Linked DNA regions of Homo sapiens. The protein of the gene in region 3 interacts with the protein of the main gene of each other region in a pairwise test. Each region holds a gene or a part of one and is shown on either strand. Other genes may lie near its edges.

The links.
Region 1: the proteins of STX12 (region 3) and KASH5 interact in binary tests that used the Homo sapiens proteins (3 or more experiments, as listed by UniProt).
Region 2: the proteins of STX12 (region 3) and NEMP1 interact in binary tests that used the Homo sapiens proteins (3 or more experiments, as listed by UniProt).
Region 4: the proteins of STX12 (region 3) and TMEM167B interact in binary tests that used the Homo sapiens proteins (3 or more experiments, as listed by UniProt).
Region 5: the proteins of STX12 (region 3) and GORAB interact in binary tests that used the Homo sapiens proteins (3 or more experiments, as listed by UniProt).
Region 6: the proteins of STX12 (region 3) and DTX2 interact in binary tests that used the Homo sapiens proteins (3 or more experiments, as listed by UniProt).
Region 7: the proteins of STX12 (region 3) and ABCA1 interact in binary tests that used the Homo sapiens proteins (3 or more experiments, as listed by UniProt).

What each region holds. Positions count from the first base shown.
Region 1 is NC_000019.10:49,415,370-49,418,490, reverse strand, and holds the end of KASH5 (protein KASH5), read right to left. Parts: intron 2,818-3,121; exon of another isoform or gene 2,333-2,817; intron 1,477-2,332; coding exon 1,412-1,476; intron 1,336-1,411; coding exon of another isoform or gene 1,333-1,335; coding exon 1,225-1,332; intron 1,123-1,224; coding exon 981-1,122; coding exon of another isoform or gene 940-980; 3' UTR 501-939; downstream 1-500. UniProt on the Homo sapiens protein: As a component of the LINC (LInker of Nucleoskeleton and Cytoskeleton) complex, involved in the connection between the nuclear lamina and the cytoskeleton.
Region 2 is NC_000012.12:57,061,792-57,065,291, reverse strand, and holds part of NEMP1 (nuclear envelope integral membrane protein 1 isoform a precursor), read left to right. Parts: intron 1-552; coding exon 553-646; intron 647-1,106; coding exon 1,107-1,221; intron 1,222-1,947; coding exon 1,948-2,173; intron 2,174-3,500. UniProt on the Homo sapiens protein: Together with EMD, contributes to nuclear envelope stiffness in germ cells. Required for female fertility. Essential for normal erythropoiesis. Required for efficient nuclear envelope opening and enucleation during the late stages of erythroblast maturation.
Region 3 is NC_000001.11:27,811,219-27,814,718, forward strand, and holds part of STX12 (syntaxin-12), read left to right. Parts: intron 1-944; coding exon 945-1,050; intron 1,051-3,500. UniProt on the Homo sapiens protein: SNARE promoting fusion of transport vesicles with target membranes. Together with SNARE STX6, promotes movement of vesicles from endosomes to the cell membrane, and may therefore function in the endocytic recycling pathway.
Region 4 is NC_000001.11:109,093,764-109,097,434, forward strand, and holds the end of TMEM167B (protein kish-B isoform 1 precursor), read left to right. Parts: intron 1-653; coding exon 654-736; coding exon of another isoform or gene 737-816; 3' UTR 817-3,171; downstream 3,172-3,671. UniProt on the Homo sapiens protein: Involved in the early part of the secretory pathway.
Region 5 is NC_000001.11:170,549,166-170,551,749, forward strand, and holds part of GORAB (RAB6-interacting golgin), read left to right. Parts: intron 1-2,584.
Region 6 is NC_000007.14:76,464,709-76,468,208, forward strand, and holds part of DTX2 (probable E3 ubiquitin-protein ligase DTX2), read left to right. Parts: intron 1-3,500. UniProt on the Homo sapiens protein: Regulator of Notch signaling, a signaling pathway involved in cell-cell communications that regulates a broad spectrum of cell-fate determinations.
Region 7 is NC_000009.12:104,785,156-104,788,655, forward strand, and holds part of ABCA1 (phospholipid-transporting ATPase ABCA1), read right to left. Parts: exon of another isoform or gene 3,413-3,500; coding exon 3,271-3,412; exon of another isoform or gene 2,900-3,270; coding exon 2,765-2,899; exon of another isoform or gene 2,462-2,764; intron 1,822-2,461; coding exon 1,718-1,821; intron 1,236-1,717; coding exon 1,143-1,235; intron 485-1,142; coding exon 241-484; intron 1-240. UniProt on the Homo sapiens protein: Catalyzes the translocation of specific phospholipids from the cytoplasmic to the extracellular/lumenal leaflet of membrane coupled to the hydrolysis of ATP.

The DNA.
Region 1 (3,121 bases), on a different chromosome or scaffold from region 3:
CAGTGGCACAATCTCCACTCACTGCAACCTCCGCCTCCCGGGTTCAAGTGATTCTGTGCCCGGCCCAAGAAGATTGTTCTTTATTGACTTAGGATGCAGTTGGGACTGGGTCAACCTAGGCTGCTACCCGTGGAGGGGTGGCAGGACAGAGTCAGGATCCTATCGGGGGAGGGCAAGGCAGAGCTGTAGAGAAGGTAGGAAGGAGAAAGAAATCAAGGAGAAGAGGTATCCTGGAGCCCTTCGAAGCAGCTTGGCCATGCATGCCAAGGCCACTCAGCAGCTGCACACTGGTGGTGGTGTGTAGGTGACTCCCAGAGTGTTTGTTAGGTCCATGGCCTGCAGTGTTTTTCAGTGTGAATGAGGTGTGTGGCAAGGCACTTTCAAGGTACCCAGTCCCCGCAGAGGTACTTGACCTCCCAGGTCTCCCAGCCTCCCTTACAGTTAAGGGTGGTCACACCAAACAGTCTGGCTAGTGAAACAAACACAAGTCTGCTGGTGGCTCTGGGCAGGCAACTGCTTCTCTTTTATTATGAATATGATTTGAATCTACCCACTGCACACTGAGGCTACTGCCTCTCTTTATAAAAAGGAAGGAAGAAATTTCCGTTTCCCGCAGATGTGATGTAGGAAGCTACAACTGCCAACTCCTGAGCATGAGGGAGGGGACAGGAGAATCACTGAGGCCCTGACCCCAAGGCAACCGAGACTTAGCTGTGTGCCCACAGCTGCCCTCGCCAGGCTTGTTTTGTGAGGGAATAATCCTTAGTGCTTAATCCATTACTGGGGGAGTTTTGCTATTGTTAAGAAATGTCAGCATTAAAAAACTAGGAGACTTCACATAAAAATACAGGGATGTGGATCCCCTGTACTCTATCTAGGGTAAGCCTGCGCAACAGTGGACTAACAATGGGGATCCCAGTGGAGAGAGGGCCAGGGGATTTATTGAGCTAGACACTGCTCTGAGGGGCAAGTAGAGCCTCTCACACTGGAGGGGGCTGGAGGTAGCAGAGCTGGAGGTGGGGCCAGGTGGGAGGTGGGGACGGGCCAAGCAGCAGGACAGAGAGCAGCAGCAGCAGCAGCAGGCCCAGGACAGGAGCTGGGATCAGTGGATGTCGAGTGACTCTGGTGGGGAGGTGGGAGAGCATTTAGGGCAGGGTCTGGGCAGCCCCTGCTCTTCCCAATGTCAGACCACCTCCTTCCTTCTGGAGACGCCTGGGGGCACACCTGAGCCGCTGTGGGGGCAGGCAGAGCTGGCCCCAGGCCCTCCTCCTGACTGGGACCAGCTTTTTCATCACAGGCACCAGGGCTTGCTGGAGTTCCCGCCGCGCAGGTCTGCTGGGGTGAAGGAGGGAATCACCACTGGGTTTTTCCTTGCCCCAGTGTCCCTCCTGGACCCTGTGGGTCCTATTACCTCTCTGGAGGGTTTTCTGGGATGTCTCCAGGGCGAGGGGCTCCTAGAGGGACAGGGAGATCAGCCTGCAAGGACAGAAGAGATGCGTTGGAGGCACCGGGTTCTGGACTGAGAGGTGCTCAGGTCAGCCCACTGGACACAAGTGGCCACATAGAAAGTGGTGGAGCTCAGGAGATAAGTGAGTGCACTTCTGCTGCCAGGTCGGGTTCCCATTTCTGCCAGCTTCTGGCTGAGGGTCCTTGGCATGTCACCACACCTCTCCGTGCCGCTCTTTCCCCATCTGCTGGCCAGGGATGTCCCCACCTCATAGGGTTAACATGGAGACTAAATGAGTGAATGTAGGAAAAAAAAGGCGGGGGCAATAGCTTGGACAGCGCCTGGTACATAGTGAGTGCTCAATGTCTGTGTGAGCTATTCAATATCATCACCTCCGTTTTCCATTGGATTCTGGAAGTATCTAAGCTCTCTGAGGGCAGAGACCACATCTTCTACAGGTGCCCACCCCTGTGCTGGGCCTCATGAAGAATCCTGTCTTCCTGCCTATGCCAGAATCGGCAGGCGCTTTACTAATTAAAAACATGCCATTACAGGCCAGGTGCAGTGGCTCATGCCTGTAATCCCGGCACTTTGGGAGGCTGAAGCGGGCGGATCACAAGGTCAGGACATGGAGACCAACCTGGCCAACATGGCGAAACTCCGTCTCTACTAAAAATACAAAAATTAGCCGGGCATGGTAGCACGTGCCTGTAATCCCAGCTACTTGGGAGGCTGAGGCAGGAGAATGGTGTGAACCTGGGAGGTGGAGCTTGCAGTGAGCCGAGATCGCACCACTGCACTCCAGCCTGGCGACAGAGCAAGACTCCATCTCAAAACAAAAACCAAAAACAAAACACCATGCCATTATAAATGGTATAATTACAAATTTATTTTTCTAATTGCTCATGGTTGCTATACTGAAATATGATTTTTTATTTTGATCTTTCACCCAGCAACCACACTAAATTCACTGATTAATTCCAACACTTCATCTGAGGATTCAAAGATCAAAGCCCCAGCTGTTCCTCCAGGGCCAGGCCCCACCCACTGCACCGCCTCATCCCCCATGTCTCCCCGGAAGGGCCTCCCCTCTATGGGTCTTTGGCTTTCCTACCCCCATACCTTTTTAACACAGATGAGGATGATGAATGACAATGATAATGGCAGTAAATAAAAACAGAACACCAATCACAATCAATATCTTCACCTCTACCACCTGCTGTGCCAGGCAGGGACCCAGGCCCTTTATGACATAGTCCTTAACCCTCCTCCCCACCCTGGGAGCAAGGAAGAGATTATGCCCATGTGAGCTGTGAGGAAGCTGAGGTGGAGCCCCAGTCTCTGCAAGGGAGTGTAGTATGTTGAAGGAGGTGGGCTTCGGGGCCAGGGTGCTGGGAGCTGAGTGTCCTGGAGGCAGCCATCTTGGCCGGTTTGGACCCTGAAGAGCCCCAGGGGCCCTGACAGTGCCTGACCCACAACAGGCAGACTCCAGCCCAGCTCCTGCATTCCTCAGCTCACAACTGAGGGCTCCTCACCTCTCCTTACCAAGTTTCTTTCCCCGTCCTTGCCTGAGAATGGAAATCTTAACCCCCACCGGGCACTGGGCTCTGAGGAGCAGAGGAACTGGCCTGTGTGGCTGCAGGCAGGGGGGCTGCGGGCACTACGCCCCCAGGG
Region 2 (3,500 bases), on a different chromosome or scaffold from region 3:
TTTTGAAAGAAGTTGTGGTAAAATGCTATCAGACAGTATTGCATGCTTTAGAGAAATCTTCATTGAAAGGATGAGTCAATGCAGCAAACTTCATTATATTTTAAGAAATTGCCACAGCCACTCCAGCCTTCAGAAACCACTGCCTTCATCAGTCAACAGCCATCAACATGGAAGTGAGACCCTCCACCAGCAAAAAAAATGATGACTCACTGAAGGCGTAGATGATCTTTAGCAGGTTTTAGCAAAGTATTTTTAATTAAGGAATATATATTTTTAAGACATAATGCTGTTGTACACTTAATATACTATAATATAGTGTAAACAATTTTTATATGCAGTGGGAAACCAAAAAATTTGTGTGACTTACTTACTGCAATTGCAATATTTGGTTTATTGCAGTGGTCTGGAACCAAATTTGAAATGTCTCTGATGCTTGTACTGCTCTAATCTTGTACCTTTTAAAATCTTTCGGCTGGGTTAGTTGTCCTAGTTTCAACAGTGCTATGTATGAAATATATACATATGGTCATGAAATACATTTTTTTCCTGCAGAAGTCAAATTTTCTACTACTCTACTGGGATGACTGTGGGAATTGTGGCCTCTCTGCTAATCATCATTTTTATACTATCTAAGTTTATGCCTAAGGTAAGTATCAGAATCTTCATGTGCAGCTAGAATGAATTTGGATAGCTGAAGGACTGTTTTCCTGGGTAATCTTAGAAAACTGAAAATGTGTATTGATGGCTGATGAGTCAATATCCTACTCTCCTTGATTCAGAAAGGTACTTTCCACGATGAAACTTGGAGCCTGATTACAAATTCTTTCTTTTTATATAAAATCCTGTGCTCAGAGGGGGATTAAAGTCTGCTTCCTGTTTTTTAATTATATAGCCAGGCTTTTAAGTTATTTAGCATTTCATCTTCCCAGTGTTCGTTGCAGACTGTACCATTTTAAGTATAAAGGACATCTTTTTAAGAGAAGTGTTTTTTGTGCATTTTGAGTAGGTTGAATTTTTTAAAAAAAAAATCATAGTTCCATTTTGCTTCTTTTATGTATGGAAAGCCTGTTGTAACTTTTTGCTTTCACTTCTACTCTCTGTCTTAGAAAAGTCCCATTTACGTCATCCTGGTGGGAGGCTGGTCTTTTTCTCTGTACCTCATTCAACTAGTTTTTAAAAATTTACAAGAGATCTGGAGGTGTTACTGGCAGTATCTTTTAAGTAAGTGTTGTCGGTTTTGCTTTCCTTTTGTACGTTTATAGGCTGTTTCAGTTAATTTGATCATGAAAAGATTTTGCCTGCTTATGGGATTTAATAGTTCATGTCATTTTTTTAAACTTTTAAAAATCATAGTTTTTCACTTATTTCTAATCCCTCTACAATTATCACCTTCTCTTAAATTAGAATGGTGCTGTTAAGGCGAAGATGTTCATTTATTGGTATTTATAAATATACCTTTCTTTACACAATAAACATCTTTCTGAAAAGCTGTAAGTTGACTTTATTAATGGAATCATATTTTAAATATACTTGGGGACCTTAAGTAAAAGACTCCGCAGTTAATTTTTTTCTCCTTCATTTCTGAATGAACTGCTGTAGATTTTATTTACAAAGTAAAAATCCTTGGTCATATAGATAGTAACCTTTGAGTTATCCTTTGAAGGGTGATTAATCTGGATTTCTGTATATTGGTTTTTTAAAATAGTCTATTTCAGGGTTGTTCAACATGTACCTTTAATGTTCTGTTTGAACCAAATAAATTTGGGACAGCAGAAAGGATAGAAACTTAGAGAAATATATTCTAAGAAAAAAGTGTGAAAAATTAAGTAAAAATCTGATTTCCTAGTTCAATTGGTGCTATATAGTAAATTAACTACTGCTTCCCACACAAATTATTTTTACCAAGTATAGATGAAAAAGAATGTCTTCTGATAACTCTTCTCATAGGTTATGTCCTCACAGTTGGATTCATGAGTTTTGCAGTATGTTACAAGTATGGGCCCTTGGAGAATGAACGAAGTATCAACCTGCTGACCTGGACCTTGCAGCTGATGGGCCTGTGTTTCATGTATTCTGGCATCCAGATACCACATATTGCCCTTGCCATTATCATCATTGCTCTTTGTACTAAGAACCTGGAACACCCTATTCAGTGGCTGTACATCACCTGCAGGTGACTGAAAGGCAATGTAACTTAATATTGACAGGTACATTGTGGGATGCAGTTGCAGCAAGAGGATACAGAGGTGTTGACCTGGGAGCTTCTTTGTTAATGAAAAGTCATTGTATTGTACTTCCACTTTTGTTCCTTCCCGAGTCTATTTTTTTTTTTTTACTTTCTATAGGAATTTTTATATTTTTATTCTAGTCATTTTATATAAAATGTCTAGTAAAATGTCATGTGTTCCTGTTACCACAAGGTGGTGCAAATTCTATCACTGTTTTTTTGAGATGGAGTCTCGCTCTGTCGCCCAGGCTGGAGTGCAGTGGCGTGATCTCGGCTCACTGCAACCTCCACCTCCCGGGTTCAAACGATTCTTCTGCCTCAGCCTCCTGAGTAGCTGGGATTACAGGCATGCGCCACCACATTCAGCTAATTTTTATATTTTTAGTAGGGTTCCCCATGTTGACCAGGCTGGTCTTGAACTCCTGACCTCAAATGTCAGGAGTTCATAAAGTGCTGAGGAGCTCCCAAAGTGCTTGGATTACAAAGTGCTGGGATTACAGACATGAGCCACTGCGCCCCGCCACAAATTGTATCGCTTTTATACCGTATGCTCATTGAGGTCTCCTGGGTTCAGATTTTTTTTTTGAGACAGAGTCTCTCTCTGTCACCCAGGCTGGAGCACAATGGCGTGATCTCGGCTCACTGCAGCCTCCACCTCCCGGGTTCAAGTGATTCTTCTGCCTCAGCCTCCCGAATAGTTGGGACTACGGGTGGGCGCCACTATGCCTGGCTAATTTTTGTATTTTTAATAGAGATGTGGTTTCACCATGTTGGCCAGGGTGGTCTCAAACTCCTGACCTCAGGTGATTTGCCCACCTCAGCCCCACAAAGTGCTAGGATTATAGGCGTGAGCCACCTCACCCAGCCCATTTCAGACTATTTCTCAGTGGCTTTCAGATTGCTCTGGAGGTCTTAGTCTTATTTTAAGATGTAATTCATAGCATGTTTTGTCACCTTGCATAATAAATATGGAATGTTACTAGGTCCTGAAGTTGTCTATTATAGATAGTCAAGGTGATGCTTTCAGTTTGGGAAACCAAGTTACTGGACCACAATCTTTTTTTTTTGAGATGGAGTCTTGCTCTGTCACCAGGCTGGAGTGCAGTGGTGCTATCTCAGCTCACCGCAACCTCTGCCTCCTGGGTTTAAGCGATTCTCCTGCCTCAGCCTCCTGAGTAGCTGGGGTTACAGGTACATGCCACCATGCCCAGCTAATTTTTGCATTTTTATAGTAGAGATGGCGTTTCACTATGTTGGCCAGGATAGTCTCAAT
Region 3 (3,500 bases):
TGAGGCAGGAGAATCTCTTGAACCCGGGGGGCGGAGTGAAGTAAGCGCCACTTCACTCCGGCCTGGATGAAAGAGCGAAACTCCGTCTCAAAAAAAAAAAAAAAAGCCAGGCATGGTGGCTCAAGCCTGTAATCACAGCACTTTGGCAGGTTGAGGCAGGAGGATAGCTTAAAGCCAGGAGTTTGAGACCAGCCTGGGCAACAAAGCAAGACCCCCATTTCTAAAAAGAATTTTTTAAAAAGTGTTATAACATTTCACTAGCTTTCTGTTAAGAGGGTTTTTTATGGATTGTTTTTTAATAGAGATGAGGGTTTTGCTATGTTAGCCAGGTTGGTCTTGAACTCCTGGCCTCAAGCAGTCCTCCTGCCTCGGCCTCCCAAAGTGCTAGGATTACAGGCATGAGCCACCGCGCCTGGCCTGTTAAGAGGTATTTAACCCAAAGCATAACCCCAAGGAAATTTTGGAAAACTAGGAGATGTGATTCTGTTGAACTAACTGGCAAAGCACTGATAGGTCACTTAGCTTGCTCTTCTCCACCCACTTAGTACTGAAGGTACTAATGCAGCTTGCACTTTGAGAGTGCCCTGGAAGATGATGGTGCAACATAATTCAATGAGTTCAAATCTCTGGCTACTTTCCTTGTCTGGCAAGCCCCAGTGAGATTACAGAGTATACCCCTAAATGGAAACAGCCAGGAGTCCCATCCGTCATAATTCTGCCACATGTCAGCTTTGCCCATGGAAGCTGAGTCTTTGTTTTCCTGATATCATCAGCTCTTTGCTTCTGGATATGAAGAATGTGGCCCTCCAAGACTTTATTGATAGCAGAGGACTGGAGCCCTGGTAATGTCTTTGCATAGGTTCTGCTGGCAGTAGAGATGTTGGAGATATGTCTTGTTATGCCTTTGAGAGGAGAAATCACCTAGTGTGCCTGTTTCCCTGCAGCCATGAGGAGTGGAACCAGATGCAGAGCCAGGAGGATGAGGTGGCCATCACTGAGCAGGATTTGGAACTTATTAAAGAAAGAGAAACGGCAATTCGGCAGCTGGAGGTGAGAGCCACGTCATGTTTTTTGTTTGACTCAGTGTGTCTGCAGGTATCTGAACTCCTTAGTTCACTTTAATTCTCTTAGTGATTATGAAAAGGCATAAAATGTGTCATTGTGTGATTTGTATTTTTTCTGTCTCAGTGTAATCATGGTGGGTTTGAACTACCGGTTTTTTTTGTTTTTTTTTTTATCTTGGATGGAATTTCGCTCTTGTTGCCCAGGCTGGAGTGCAGTGGTGTGATCTTGGCTCACTGCAACCTCTGCCTCCTGGGTTCGAGCGATTCTCCTGCCTCAGACTCTCGAGTAGCTGGGATTACAGGCATGTGCCACCACGCCCAGCTAATTTTGTATTTTTAGTAGAGACGGGGTTTCTCCATGTTGGTCAGGCTGGTCTTGAACTCACGACCTCAGGTGATCCACCCTCATCGGCCTCCCAAAGTGCTGGGATTACAGGCGTGAGTCACCGCTCCTGGCATGAACTACTGTTATAATGGCATTGGCCTTGGTGCCCAGGAGTACTCAAATCCTTTCCTCAATCACCACATCTTATACGGATCACCACATCTTATTTCTCCTGGAGAAATGTACATGGAGAACAGAACAAGGCAGACAGATATTTTATTGCTCATTAGAACTTTGACCTCAAATCTCAATGCCAACCTCCGGGTTAGGCAGGACTCCATGGAGAGCCCCTTTGCTTAGTCTGAAGAGCCCAGAATAAAGGCAGGCCAAAAGTCTTGCTCCATTTTTGTATATCCTAAAGTCTAATCCCAAGTTGTACATCTTATCCCTTCAGTGAGTCAGAGAAATAGGAACAGTTTTTGAGGTGGAGGTTGAGGGAGAAGTCTGTAGGCCTTTCTTACCTAACTGAGCTTTCAACTTTAATTTTGCACAGTGACTAATAAAATATCCTTTTTTTTTTTTTTCCGAGACTAAGTCTTGCTCTGTCGCCCAGGCAGGAGTGCAATGACACTATCTCAGCTTACTGCAGCCTCCCTCTCCTGGGTTCAAGTGATTCTCCTGCCTCAGCCTCCTGAATAGCCGAGACTACCAGTACGCACCACCACACTCGGCTAATTTTTGTATTTTTAGTAGAGACAGGGTTTTGCCATTTTGGCCAGGCTGGTCTTGAACTTCTGACCTCAAGTGATCTGCCTGCTTCAGCCTCCCAAAGTGCTGGGATTACTGGCATGAACCACTGTGCCCAGCTAAAATATCCTTAAACCTGAGTTTTCTCCAGTTTAGTTTTCTCCGAAGGTAGAAGGCTGCCATTGCTGGGATCAGGGGAGGAGAAAAGGAGAGAGGGAAATTTTGAGCTCTTCCTTGGCCTCCATCTGTAGCAGTGGTTCTGAACTGTGAGTGCACATGAGGATCACCTGGAGAAGATTTTTTTTTAATGCCCCAGCTCTCATCCACCACTAATTACCTGATGGGATAATGTGAAATTCCTGTTTATTATATGTTAAAAATGGGCAAATATCCATTATTTTATATGGTTCAAACTAATAAATCATAATTTCTGGGCGTGAGGCCCTGGGCATGGGTATTTTTTTAAAAAGTTCCCCCAGGTGATTATAATATGCAGCCAGGGTTGAGACCCACTGCCCTAAAGGCCATCAATGTCTGTTTTTATCTATTTATTATTTATTTTTTGAGTCAGAGTCTTACTCTGTCACCCAGGCAGGAGTGCAGTGGCGCGTTCTTGGCTCACTGCAACCTCCACTTCCTGGGTTCAAGCGATTCTCCTGCCTCAGCCTCCTGAGTAGCAAAGATTATAGGTGCCCGCCACCACTCCTGGCTAATTTTTGTATTTTTAGTAGAGACGAGGTTTTGCCATTTTGGCCAGGCTGGTCTTGTCTGTTTTTAGATGGGATAGTTTATCCTTAAGTTATGATTATTTTATTGCCTTCAAAAATGTCATATCTTTACTCTTTTTCACCTACTGCTACTACTAATTGAATTAATTGTCTAACATTAGAAATATGGCTAAGTGCAATGGCTCATGCCTGTAATCCCGGCAAGTTGGAGGCTGAGGCAGGATGATTGCTTGAGCCCAGGAATTCAAGACAGCCTGGGCAGTGTAGCAAGACCTTACCTCTACAAAAAATAAAAAATTAACCGGGTGCTGTAACATGTACCTGTGGTCCCAGCTACTCAGGAGCCTGAGGCAGAAGATCACTTGAGCCCAGGAGATCAAGGCTGCAGTGAGCCATGATCGTGCCACTGCAATCCAGCCTGGGCAACAGAGCAAGACTCTGTCTCAAATAATAATAATAATCCTTCCTTCAAAGAAAAATTACTAGCCGGGCGCGGTGGCTCATGCCTGTAATCCCAGCACTTTGGGAGGCTGAGGCGAGTGGCTCACCTGAGGTCTGGAGTTCAAGACCAGCCTGACCAACATGGTAAAACCCCGTGTCTACTAAAAACACAAAAAATTAGCCGGGTGTGGTGGT
Region 4 (3,671 bases), about 81 Mb from region 3:
AAATTTTTTTTTGAAAAAGGACAAAATATAAACAAACAGTATATTCACCTAGACCCTAAAGCATAAGGATAGCATTTAGAAACATCTCAGAGGCCGGATGCGGTGGCTCATGCCTGTAATCCCAACACTTTGGGAGGCCGAGGAGGGCAGATCACCCAAGGTCAGGAGTTCGAGACCAGCCTGGCCAACATGGTGAAACCCTGTCTCTACTAAAAATACAAAAATTAGCCAGGGAGCCGGGCACGGTGGCTCACGCCTGTAATTCCAGCACTTTAGGAGGCCAAGGTGGGTGGATCACCTGAGGTCAAGAGTTCAAGACCAGCCTGGCCAAGATGGTGAAACCCCATCTCTACTAAAAATACAAAAATTAGCTGGGCATGGTGGCAGGCGCCTGTAATCTCAGCTACTCAAGAGGCTGAGGCAGGAGAATTGCTTGAACCCGGGTGGCAGAGGTTGCAGTGAGCCGAGATCGCGCCACTGCACTCCAGCCTGGCCGACAGAGTGAGACTGCCTCCAAAAATAAAATAAAAACATCCCAGGCCCTTGAGAGCGTTGATATGTCTGTCTGTGACTAGAGACTTCAAAATATCACCTTGAAAGTGAGGACTTCGGTGAAGGGCAGGGTGTGATTTCTTCTCTCTTTTGCCTGCTAGCCGCTGTGATTGGAACCAGGCTGCATGCTGCTGTGGCAATTGCTTGTGTTGTAATGGCCTTTTACGTCCTGTTTATAAAATGAATTCCAAAGCACCCAAGTCATCAACTGCCAACCAAGGGGACGGGGATGAAGAACCTGTTGGAGACCTGAACCCAGTGTAGGAGAGTTCAGCTGAAATCATCGGTCCCCAGGATGACACCACAGCATCTGCCCCTGCTATATGTGGGGAAAACTCATGGTCACGAACATTATTTATGCTTCAGGGGACTACAGAAAGCCAGCTTCCTTTGATCTATGTGTAAATCAGTCCTTGGCAGAGTGCATATAATGTCCGGATAAATTACACCCCTCGGTGATAAGATTACATACCTCCTTCATAAAAACCTGTCATCCTGTTTTGTTCTTCAGCTCCTCATCAGGATCTTTTCAAACTGAGGCTCATTAGGGAAGGAACTAGGCTGTGTTCAGACTTCTTTTGAAGAGAGAGAATTTTCAAGACTTCTTTTCACTCTTTGATTTGGATCTGGCAAATTGGGGAGGGGATGCTGGGTGGGAAACAGTTATGAAATGCCAAGAAATTCTTTGGCTTTAGAAATTTATCTTTCATGTACCCATCCGGGAACATAAAAGAGAGGCATAGTGCTCATTGCAAAAAGAGAACAGATGAAGTAGCTGTGTTATGTGCTGGTATCTTGAGAGTTTTGCCAAGAAAATCTGGGCCTACATAAAATTTGAGAATTATCTGTGTGATGAGACCAGAAAGCAGTGGCTTAGACAAGAAAAAATCTTTCTGTTCACCAGTATCCTCAAATGGAGACTTCACTTGATCAGATGGTATATGAAAAATGAATCAACTATTGCTATTTCGTAAAACCTTTTTATATTTTCTAAATTTACTTAGTGCTAAATACTGTTACTCAGTTTTAAATGCCACGACTAGGGGAAAAAGAAACTATTGAAGAAATAATTGTTTAGTATATTTGCAGTTGGGGTAGAAGAAAGAAATCTAGTATATTGATTCATATACTAGTAAATTCATCTAGTATAAGAACTTGTGATGTTAGATTGAAGTTTTGTCATCTTATAAAAGACAACAAACTTATTTTCTGTTTAAGTCTGAGTGTTATGGCAATTTTTAGTTGATTACTTATTTTTCTTAGCCAAATTTTAATTTTCTTCATATTGCATTGCTCTTTAGTTGTCTCTGGAAATTCTATTTACTTTAAGGACATGAGAAATTCAAATGAGAGAAGTTGCTGATATTCATCAGTGTGTTTGGACAGTTCATAGGGTCCACAAATCAAATGAGGTTGTTTCCTGAAGTAGAAGAAAACAGAACTTTGCAATTGATACTGAAGTACTTTGCCATGGAGTTAGTAACTCCTGAGCAGACCATTTTAGATGGCTCAGCATTTGGCAGGAAGACTTCTCCATTCCCTGCTTATATCTATGGAAGGATCAGCTGTTGGATGTCTAGAACTTCTCTATTTAAAAAAAAAGAGTAGGTCTAAAATTAAATTATTATAAGCAAGCATAGACATGGGTCTTCCAGTTGAATTGTCCATTACCGTAAAACTTAATGGTGGACAAGTTAGCTGTGGTTGATTCCTGTGTGGCAGTAAATTGTCTTCTGTCTGCTTACTCCAAATAATAAAAGCTGCTAGGAAGTTTAGATTTTGAAATAGGCAGTTTAATGCTTTGAGGGTTTCTAGAAATACAGAAAGTCATCAAGTAAACACTGCATGTCTAATCATCTCAGAGTTGTGGCTGTTATCTCTTCAGGAATTGGTCCACAGGGTAAATTTCAACAATTCATACGTTTTCCATTGTCATTTCTGAGGACCTTTGAGATGAGAGAAAGGAAATCTAGTGGAACAGGAAAGAGAGTTACACCTTGTGGGTGTGAGTTTGGGACCTGTTGGCAGAAGGGAATGTCACTCCCTGGAAACAGGTTCAGCATGTTTGCACTTGTTATTTTGTAGCTTTAATGATTTTTGTTTTCTAATAGGGCAAATGTCTCTAAGCTTGGTGTTTAGAGCTGCTTCATATTTTAAACTAGTTCCATTCCACAGTTCTAGTTCAAACCAGTTTTTACAGCCTCCTGGGTGGGTCGTCTTGACCCAAACTCTTGTGTTGTTACATTTTGAGAGGTTTTCATACCAGAATGTACCAAAAAGTGCACAAGGTAAAGGTAATTTACAGCCAGAAACAAATATACATTTGTTTCATTTCTTGACTTTCCCTAAGCAGATAAGCAGAAACTTGTTTAACTCATTACTTTGTTTGATGTGTCTTACATATTTTTGACTAAAAGTTATAGAATGTTATTCCTCTGGGGGAATCTTTTACAGGTGGAGGAATGGGGATAGCAGTATTGCCTCAGATTCAAACTGGCATCACCATAAACCCTGTAGGCCAGGGTGGAATGAAGTCAGCTCCTTTTTATAGTTGAAATACAATTTTTTATTCACCATTGTCTGCACAAATCCTTGAAAATAAACCTTTTTTTCCCTACAGTCTTTGTCAATTTATTTGTCACATGCTGAATTTATTGAAGTTTGTTCAGTCCTCCCCTGGGTTCAGTTCATAGCCTACCTTTTTAGTTCACATTAGTAAATACCATCATTCCTGTTATCCCATTGTGAGAGCATTGAATGTATTATATAGTTAAGAATCTATGATGGCCTAGTTTTCTCCTTTAGGGCAGCTGAGACAGATATATCTAGAGATATCTATAACTAGATATATATATGTATATATGATATGCTGAGATATATATAACTAAATATAAATGCATGTAGTAAGTTTTCATATATATACGAATAAGATATTCATATATATGTGAATGAATAAGTATTGAGGTATATGAATGAAATAAGGTAGATAGCACCCCCAATACATTCCATCTGCTATTGCTATTAAAATACAAGTATCATCTGCTCTAAACAGTCATAAACATCTTCATTCAAATGAAGTTAACAAGTTAACCAGCCAGACACCTAGAAAATCCTTGAGC
Region 5 (2,584 bases), about 140 Mb from region 3:
TAACAAAACAGTTCTATAATTACATTTCCAGTTCACTCTGTCTTACTGTGTTATGTATAATGCTCTTATTATTTTGTTCCAGAATGTCATCATACACTAATTTGGTATTACCCACCTGACCATAGGCTGGTAGTGCAGTTTGTGAAACTAATCAATATTTTAAACATTAAATCACTCTGTGGGAGAATATATATTCGTATTTCTGGCCAGAAGGACTTTAAATAAATAAACAAAATACAAAATCTTCAGTGATTTATCCAGGGTGATAGATCAATGGAAACCAAGGGACCTGTTCGCAAATGTTAATTTCAATTCAGTATTCATGAATCCAGACTGTAAATCTCTACTGATTGACTTTGACTGGCTGAAGGAGACCACAGACTTGCAGAAAAGGGAGGTTTGAGGCAGGGTCAGGGCAGGGTATTCATACACCTATAGAGAATGTCAGAACTCTTGTCTTGTTGCAAGAACATTACATGAACAGGGTATGTTATAAAGTATGGAGATAAGGGAACTAGGTATCCAGTAGAGTTCCTTTAGAACAATTCTTTTAACATAGAGGGTTATTGAAAGATAATGGGTGCTCTCATTTTTACATTTACTATATTTACAGTTAAAAAAGGAAATAGGATAAATTAACATTATGTAAATGAGTTTTCAAGTATAAATACCAGGTCCCTAAATTTTCCATAATCTTAATTTTAGATTCATGCTTACTAATATATTAACAGTACTTTTTGATTCTGGTGTTCTAAATGAGAAGTTCTGTTTCTTGAGCACCTACCAGGCACAAAACTGGAAGTTTGCCCCATTTATACTGTTTAATCTTCAAAACTCCTATGAGGTATTATTATCATCATTGTTTTACAGGTAGACCAAGACTCAGCTTAAGTAACTGCTCAGAGTCACTGTGCCGGAATTTTCAGTTATTGCATGCCTCTTCCCCAACCCCTTCCAGAGGAACCTGGCTGTGTTTTGGACTCAGGATGCTGACCTGGGGCATACCTAATTAGAATAGTGATGGGCTACCGACTCCAGTACATTTAATCCATAGGCTAAATAGTGGTTCACGGCATGGCCTGACACTAAGAGTTCTGTTTAAACTGAGATGAGCCGGGCAAACCTATGTTCTCCTCTGAGAGTGTGGAATTGGATCACTGAGAGATTGGGTGGAGTGAATTTGATACAGAGTGCAGGTGGTGGCCATATTGGCCTGTGAGTATGATAGGAAAGCTGAAATGAGAGAAAATGTGTCGCTTCTAAGCATTGAAAAGAATAGCCTTTGATTCTGATGACATGACTATGAAATTGCCTCGTGTATCCTACAATAAAACCCAATTTTTACCTGAGCTAGTTTGACTGGATATCTGTTCTTTGTATCCACAAGAAGCCTTGACCGAAATGGGTACACATGGTAAATGTCAGGAAGGTTTTGAACCCTGAGTTTTCTAAAATGAAAGCCATTTATTATTTTCACTGTATTTTCTTCCAAGACAGAGAATCCTAAATTAGGAGATATACCTGTTTCTTTTTTGCTATAACTCTTGTACTAGAAGCTACTTATTACACTAAGTTGATGTAGGCACTCATAACAGGTAAAGCAGCATGGCCTTCACAACTGCTAATGGTAATGAAATTAAAGAACTAGTTGGAAATCAATCTTTTTTCTTGCAAGAGAGGAAGGACCCTCTTGTTGCAAAAAGAAAAGCAACAAATTTTATAGAAAAGGCAAAAGACAATAAATTAAGACACGATAACTCTTCTTTTTGTACTGACCTAATGCAGAAGAAAAAAAGTGAGATTGCAAGGTGACTTCTCTAGTAGAATTGCCCTATTTCACATAAGACTTCACATAAGATTACCTGTCAACAGAGTTTATACATGTGTAACTATGTAAAATTTCCTAGTAAGAGTGTAAGAGGAGTAGTGGAGAGAATGAGAACAACTTAACCCAAGGATTCTCAACTGGGAGCATTTGTGTCCAATAAGGGACATTTGGCAATGCCTGGGGACATTTTTGGTTGTCATAAATTTTGGGAATTACTGGCAACTAATGGGTAGAAGCCAGTGATGCTGTTTAGCATCTTGCAGTGCAGGACAGCTTCTCACAACAAATAATTATATGGCCCAAATTGTCAGTAGCACCAAGGTTGAGAAATCCTGCATATAGCTATCCTGAGGTTTTCTACTTGATGTTTACTTCTTGCCCTCACCCAGTATCATTTTGCTGGGTGTGCTCTGTTCCATTTATATTCATCTCCCGACCACTGTCCGTATCTTTCTCCATCAGAATTTTTCTTTTTTTCTAATTTATTAATCAAGAGAACAATTTTCCACTTTCTCCATCTCTTGTCTGTCTTCTCATAAATTTAACCAGCTGTGTGCTGAAGCTAGCTTACCCTGGTTCATGTGGATTTTGTGTATCTCTTCCCAGTTCTGCATTCAGTAATATCACGTTGGTGGCTTGAAATTGGACAGGGTGGTAGTAATTATCCCATGGAAATGTAAACGCTACAAATCAGGGCTCCCCATCCTCCCACCCCAGAACTAGCATACCACTGAATTAACCTTTTAGCCTGCCTTC
Region 6 (3,500 bases), on a different chromosome or scaffold from region 3:
TTTTAATGGAGCACACTGGAACATGTGGAATGGGTTTAGACTGGATTATTCGCTTTGTGGCGGTCTTCTTACATACATCATGCCAGCTTCTTCGTGGGGAGAGGCAGGTGAGTGGTTTTGCCCTCAGTTGCTTATAGTCTAGTTGAAGAGATAAAGTGAACATAGAGAACTGAAAAGGAACTTGCTAAGAGGGTGTTTTCTTTCATTCTTTTTGTTGTTGTTGTTTTGTTTTGTTTGTTTACTTTTTGAGACAGGGTCTTACTCTGTCACCCAGGCTGGAGAGCGGTGGTGCAATCTCAGCTCACTGCTCAACTTCACCTCCCAGGCTCAAGAGGTTCTTGTGCCTCAGCTTCCCGAGTAGCTGGACTTACAGGTGCACACCATCATGCCTGGCTGATTTAGAGGGTGTTTGCTTTCTGCTGGGCACATCCAGGCATCGTGGGAAGTGCTGTTTAAATTGGGCCATAAAAGGGTGGGTAAGGTGAGGACAGGGGACCAAGTGGGTGGGATTCAGGGTGAAGCAGAGTCATGGGGGTGGGGACAGACACGCTGATGCACATGGGAGTAGTGGATCCTCATTTACACTCTGGAAGGGAATTGTGGAGAGGGAGGTATAGATGAGGGGATGGAAGGGAAGGGCACCGGCAAATATTGTTGATAGCGAGGGAAGGGCGGTATTGTGATCGGCTTTGACTGTCAGCCTAAGGAATTTGAATTTCATTCTAGAGATCCAGGGGAGGTGTGTAAAAGACAAGATCAGAACGTTAGTTCAGGAAGCTTAATCTTTTCTGCCCCCCCATCTGAGATGTACAAGAGGGTTAGAAAGCAGAGTTGGAGAAGCTGTTTGGGAGGGAGCACTTATTTGTTTTTTTGTTTTGTTTTGTTTTTTTGAGATGGAGTCTCGCTCTGTTACCCAGGCTGGAGTGCAGTGGCGCCATCCTGGCTCACTGCAACCTCCACCTCCCGGGTTCAAGTGATTCTCCTGCCTCAGCTTCCCAAGTAGCTAGGACTACAAGCACCTGCCACCATGCCTGGCTAATTTTTGTATTTTTAGTAGAGACGGGGTTTCCCTCTGTTGGCCAGGCTGGTGTCGAACTCCTGACCTCAGGTGATGCACCCACCGAGGCCTCCCAAAGTGCTGGGATTACAGGCGTGAGCCACTGCGCCCGGCAGGGAGGGGGTAAAGTGAGAGGCATAAGGGTCCCGGCCAGGTGTTAGCAGGGGGCTTCAGAGGTGAGGAGAGAGCAGGGCAGGCAGCTGCTAGGCCTGGGGGAGCGGGCTGCGGAGGACTGAGAATCTGAGGTTTTTCTCTTGGCCGCCTGGGGGAAATCCAGGGGGAAAAGGAGAATGAGGAAGGAAGATGCGTTTGGCCTCAGACGTGTTGAAGGTATTAAGAGGCCAACAGGAAATGAGGCCATGGGCTAGAGAGAAGAGCCCTGATTCATTCCCCAAATGCCTCCCGAAATTCTGTGCGCCGAGGCTTGTGTTTGGCACTTGGAGTACAAAGATGAATTCAGCAGTCTCTTTGGTGTTTGCCTTATCAGCTAAGCTGAGAACAAGATTGATTAGTACACACTCCTCAGTGTTCATGCCTGACCTACTTTTCCTTATTTAGTAAGTTATTTTTAATAAATGTAGTAAGCTCTGGCAATCTAGGCACCCAAAACAAAAGCTGGGATCATGAAACAAAAGTATATATCTAATCTTTTTTTTTTAATTTTAAAAAACTTTAAAAAGTTTTCTACTTTATCAGGTCCCCTTAGAACATCTAATCATTTCATTTGAACTTGTTTTCTGTTCTTACCCTGAGGTAATCATTATCTCCTTTCTTTCATTTTTTTCTTAGTTTTATCTTACATGTGTATTTCTTTGTTTCTCTGTCTCTTTTTTTTTTTTCTTTGAGGCAGAGTTTCACTCTTATTGCCTAGGCTGGAGTGCAATGGCACGATCTCGGCTCACTGCAACCTCCACCTCCCGGGTTCAAGCTACTCCCGATTCTCCTGCCTCAGACTCCGGAGTAGCTAGGATTACAGGCATGCGCCACCATGCCCGGCTAATTTTGTATTTTTAGTAGAGACGGAGTTTCTCCATGTTAGTCAGACTGGTCTCAAACTCCTGACCTCAGGTGATCCACCTGCCTCGGCCTCCCAAAGTGCTGGGATTACAGGTGTGAGGCACCGCGCCTGGCCTATTTCTTTCTTTTTTTAGAGACAGTGTCTCACCTTGTAACCCAGGCAGCTGGAGTGCAGTGGCATAATCACGGATCACTGCCGCCCCAAATTCCTGGGTTCAATGGATCCATCCCCTTCAGCCTCCTGAATAGCTGGGACTACAGGCACAGGCTACCATGCTTAGCTAATTTTTAAAGTTTGTGCAGAGGCAGCTTCACTGTGTTGCCCAGGCTGGTCTTGAACTCCTGGGCTCAAGCAATTCACCCGCCTTGGCCTCCCAAAGTGCTGGGATGATAGACATGAGCCACCATGCTCGGCAGTGTTCATCTTTCGTAGCTATTGCTAGACCATTTCCTGAATGTAGTGCTTATACCAGTATCCACTTTACCAGCAGTGTCCTGTGTCTTGCAGCTCCACAGTCTTACCAACATTTGCTGTTGGCCAAGTGAATGGGTAGAAAATGGAATCTTTGGGAACTTGGTTTCTAGGTCCCTGAGCCCTGCTGCTGAATATCTCCTCTTATGTTTATTGGCATATGTGTTTCCTGTGAAATATTCATGTCTTTTGCCAGTTTTTCATTAGGGTTCTTGGTGCTTTATTTTTTGTTGATCTATAGGGCTCTTTATATATTGCTGATTTTAATCCTTCGTGTCTATTGCAAATATCTTCTCCCAGCTTTTAACCTATTATTCCTCTTTCTTTAAGGTGTCTTCTGTTGATCAGCCATTCTTCATTTTAACATAGCGAAATGTATTTTTTCCCTAGTACTCAGTTTTCTGGGTCTGGTTTGAAGTCTTTTCCTGAACATAACCCTTGCCTTTAAGGAGCGTATGCATTCTCCAGTGGAGGAGACAGATAATGGCACTGAGACGTCATGTGGGCATTGATTGTTAGAAGTGGCCACTTCTGCCTGTGGAGCGGGAGCGAACTTAGGAAAGATCTCACAGGGCAGAGTCTTGAGCTAGGAATTAAGAGATGAGTAAGTGGACAAGTGCGATGGGCATTCTCAGTGGGGGACGAAGGGCATGAAACATCCTGACCTGCCCTGGGCACTGCCAGGAGGTCCAGATGGCAGGAGCTGACGGTTTGAGGGGCTCGGGCAGGGCATCCCGAGGACAGCTTTGGGTGATCTGTATGCAAGGGAATATTGAAGCCATGGGAACAGATCCTGAGGATCCGGGGGGAATGGAGAGAGGAGGGGAGGAGGGGAGAGGGAGGCCAGGGCCTGATTCCCGGATGCAGAGAATGTTATCAACGCCCGGTGTGGCTCTGGGGAGCACCTGGGGCTTCCCAGGGGCGGGTGCTGTTGGCATGCTGCCTGCTGTGCTG
Region 7 (3,500 bases), on a different chromosome or scaffold from region 3:
TAAATGGTAGTTTTTATGGTTATTATTACAGTAAATTCTCACAATAATCCTATAGAGTACATAGGCATCATCTCCCTTTTCAGGTTCAGAGAGGTTTAGTAAAAAGCATAGCTAGGAATAGTAGATCAGGAATTCAAGCACCAATTCAAGATACAAACTGCTCTTGGACCTATGGGCGGGAGTGTCGGGGCAGGAATCCACACCCTGAGAAGTAAATCTGTTTTGACACTCAAAGCTTACTTGGTCAAGTGTTGTCTGAGAAACAGAGTAGTCTTCTATGTGGAGTCGCTTTTTGCTCTGGGAGAGGATGCTGAATATCCTGGCCAGAGAAGATAATGAAGATGGAAGCTGGTATTGTAGCATGTTCCGGTGTTTCTCTTTTAGAACACTTCCAGGAAATGCAAGTCCAAAGAAATCCTGGACAGGCTTCAGGTCCGGGTTGGACCCTGCTATTCGTACAACTATTGTATAACCATCTCCAAACCTGAAAGCAGGAAAAAATACCCAAATGGAGGATCTCCAGAAAACTATTTAAAAGAATACTGAACCCTGGGAACCCAACTTGTGCCATGAAAAAGGGCGGCCCCTGGCAGGCCCAGAAATAAGTTTCTGAGAGAAGGAACCAGTTATCATTTACTAAATACTTATTTTATGTGAAGCACCATGCCATGTGCTGTAAATACATGATCTCCTTTAATCCTCACCTGGACCCATGAAGTCTGACAGATGTTACAGAGAAACTGAGGCCCAGGGAGTTAGTCACTTGCCCATGGCTCAGAGCTCATAATTGGTAGGGCCAGGATGCAAACCCATTTGTGTTTGACTCCAAAGCTTGCGCTCTCACCAGTACTGGCACATGTAAATTTTTTTCATTTCATCTATAGCACAAAGCTAGGAGGTAGATCTTCCAGGGAAACTAACTCTTACAGTAGTTAAGTCACTTGCCCAAGAGTCACAGAACCAGTAAATGGTAAAGACAGAATTTGAATGCAGTTCGGACTTCAAAGCCCTCATTCTTTCCACTATACTGTTTTGCTCAGTTTTATTTCCCTTTATGTTAGAGGCACCATTTATATACTCACAAAAGAATAAATATCAAGCCTTCTCACTAGGCACTATCCCAAAGAAATTATCTTTATTACCTATTTTTTAGATGCTGGACACTGCCAAGGCACCTGAACCTTCCATTGACCATGATTGCCATCCTAGTGCAAAGAGCTTCACATTCTTCCATACTGCGGTAAAACAGAAAGAGGTTTTAGTTTTAGAGAGATTCTCTGTAACCATGAGAACATCACCATGACTTCCAGCATTCCAGCTTCCTAGGGAATTGTATTCTGTTACAAGTACATGTGGATATAGGGATGATGCTGTTCAGTGTAGTGGTGTTTACAATTGTGAACAAGTTGGAAATAATCCAAATGTCTACAAAAGGGGGAATAGTTAAATAAGAGTATATCCTAATGGAATACTATCCAGCTATAAGAAATGACACCTAAATGCACTGACTTGGAATAATGTTTACAATATATTAAGTGAAAAAGAGCAGTATTTATACTGGGCTTGCATTTTTGTAAGAATATGCATATATAATTTCAGGTAATAATTGTTTTACTCTTTGCTTTTCTGTATTTTCTAATTTTTACAAAATGATCGCATATTCTACTTGGAAAGTTAAAACATCCCACAGTGAGGAACCCAAGACTTTACTACGGACCTATGAGATGTAAGCACTACTGATCTCCCCTCCTTGACAACACTTAGGGCACAATTCCACAAGAACCGCCGGGCTTTGGGATCCATGCCTGTGGTGGGTTCATCCTGTAATTAGAATAAAATAAGTCTTATTTGCTGGGGGGAAAAAAAATCAAAGATAAATTTGTTTTTAAATGCAGAAGCATCTTTGAAACAGCTTAAATTTTAACTTGCCATTCTAGTTATTTCTTGATGAATCAAAGAATTAGAGTAACTTTCAAATTCATTTGTAAACAAGGTCATTATTATAAATGTCTTATTGATGCAGGAAACTCAAATATTCTGAGTACTTTTTTATGTAATTAAATTTCTCCAAATAAATAGGGAAGGAAAAAGGCCATTTAGTTGTAATTATCTTTTCATGACTGATAAGTATATACAAAACAACTTTTTGTCTGAAACCTCTATTGAAGTCAGTATAAGATTGGGGTGAAATTCCTTTTTTTTTTTAATTCCAGCTCACTCAGATTACCCTAGTATATTGCAACTGTTAGCCTTACAGAAACAAATTCCAGACCGAGGTGGAATACATAAAAGCCTCAAAGGCTTCTTCCCGTAATAACATCAATGCTCTTATCTACAGAAGAAAAAAGGTCAAGGGCCACTTCCCAGTCTGATCTGTTTTTCATCTATCCGTGTGTAAGGAACTATGACCTAGTTGCTACCTTGGGGATTTTAAAGCTGTGTCCACACTCTTCATTTTCAGGGAATGAACACAAAGATGATTAGAAAGAATGTTCCAGAGAAAGATCAAATCACATATCCAGCCTCAATCACGCTAAGAAACAAAGTGCTTGGAGTGCCTCTATTTGGGAGCATCTGCAGGCATGGTACAGCCACCCCAGTGTGTGCCAAGGGAGAAGCTTCCCTCTGCTTTTCCAAGGTTGCTCTGCTGTCCCTGGGGGAAGACAAGCCAATCATACAACAGCCCTGGACATATAGGACTTTTGAACAGTCATGTTTTCCACTCAGGCCAGAACAACAGTTTTCCATCCACAGTTATACTCACCAGAAACACCACAGGAGGCCCGCCGATCAAAGCCATGGCTGTAGAGAGCTTGCGTTTGTTGCCTCCACTATAGTTACCAGCATATTTTTCTCCATACTTCACGAGGCCCAGTTTCCGAATCGCCCACTCACCAACCTACAGTGATAAAAAGCACCTTGACTTTGGTCTGGCTTGGGAATTTTATCATGCTGTCCTACACATACATGTATGAAAGTTCTTTCACTGAGTAGGACTAGATTCTATAATCATAACCTGACAACTGGTGAGGAGCCAAAGCAGGGAGAAGGGACTCGTGTGGTGGGAGCAGCACTCCCTCTCTGCCCACCCAGCCCTGCCCCACCACCGTTACAGGTTTCCACCCTGAAAGCAGATACAAAGAACCAGCATTTTGTGCTGCTGCATTCATGAGGAAAAACAGCCTGAAGTCAATGCGTGTGGAAAAGCCATAAGGTATATATTGTCAGGATGCCAAAGGAGACAGGCTGGCTTTCAGGTGCCCACAGTACCTTGCCAACTTCTTTCTCTGGGACTCCTCTCAAAAGGGCAAAGAACTCCACGTGTTCTCTCCCAGTCAACAGCTCTGTGATGGCATCAAACTGAGGGCAGTAGCCCATGTTCTGATGTACTTCATGGATGTTTGATAAGATACTGCAAAGGACAAGAAAACTACTTAGATTTTAAGCAGGTAGAGATACTCTGGTTAGACAATCTGGCCTAATGTTCCTGTAAAGTATGC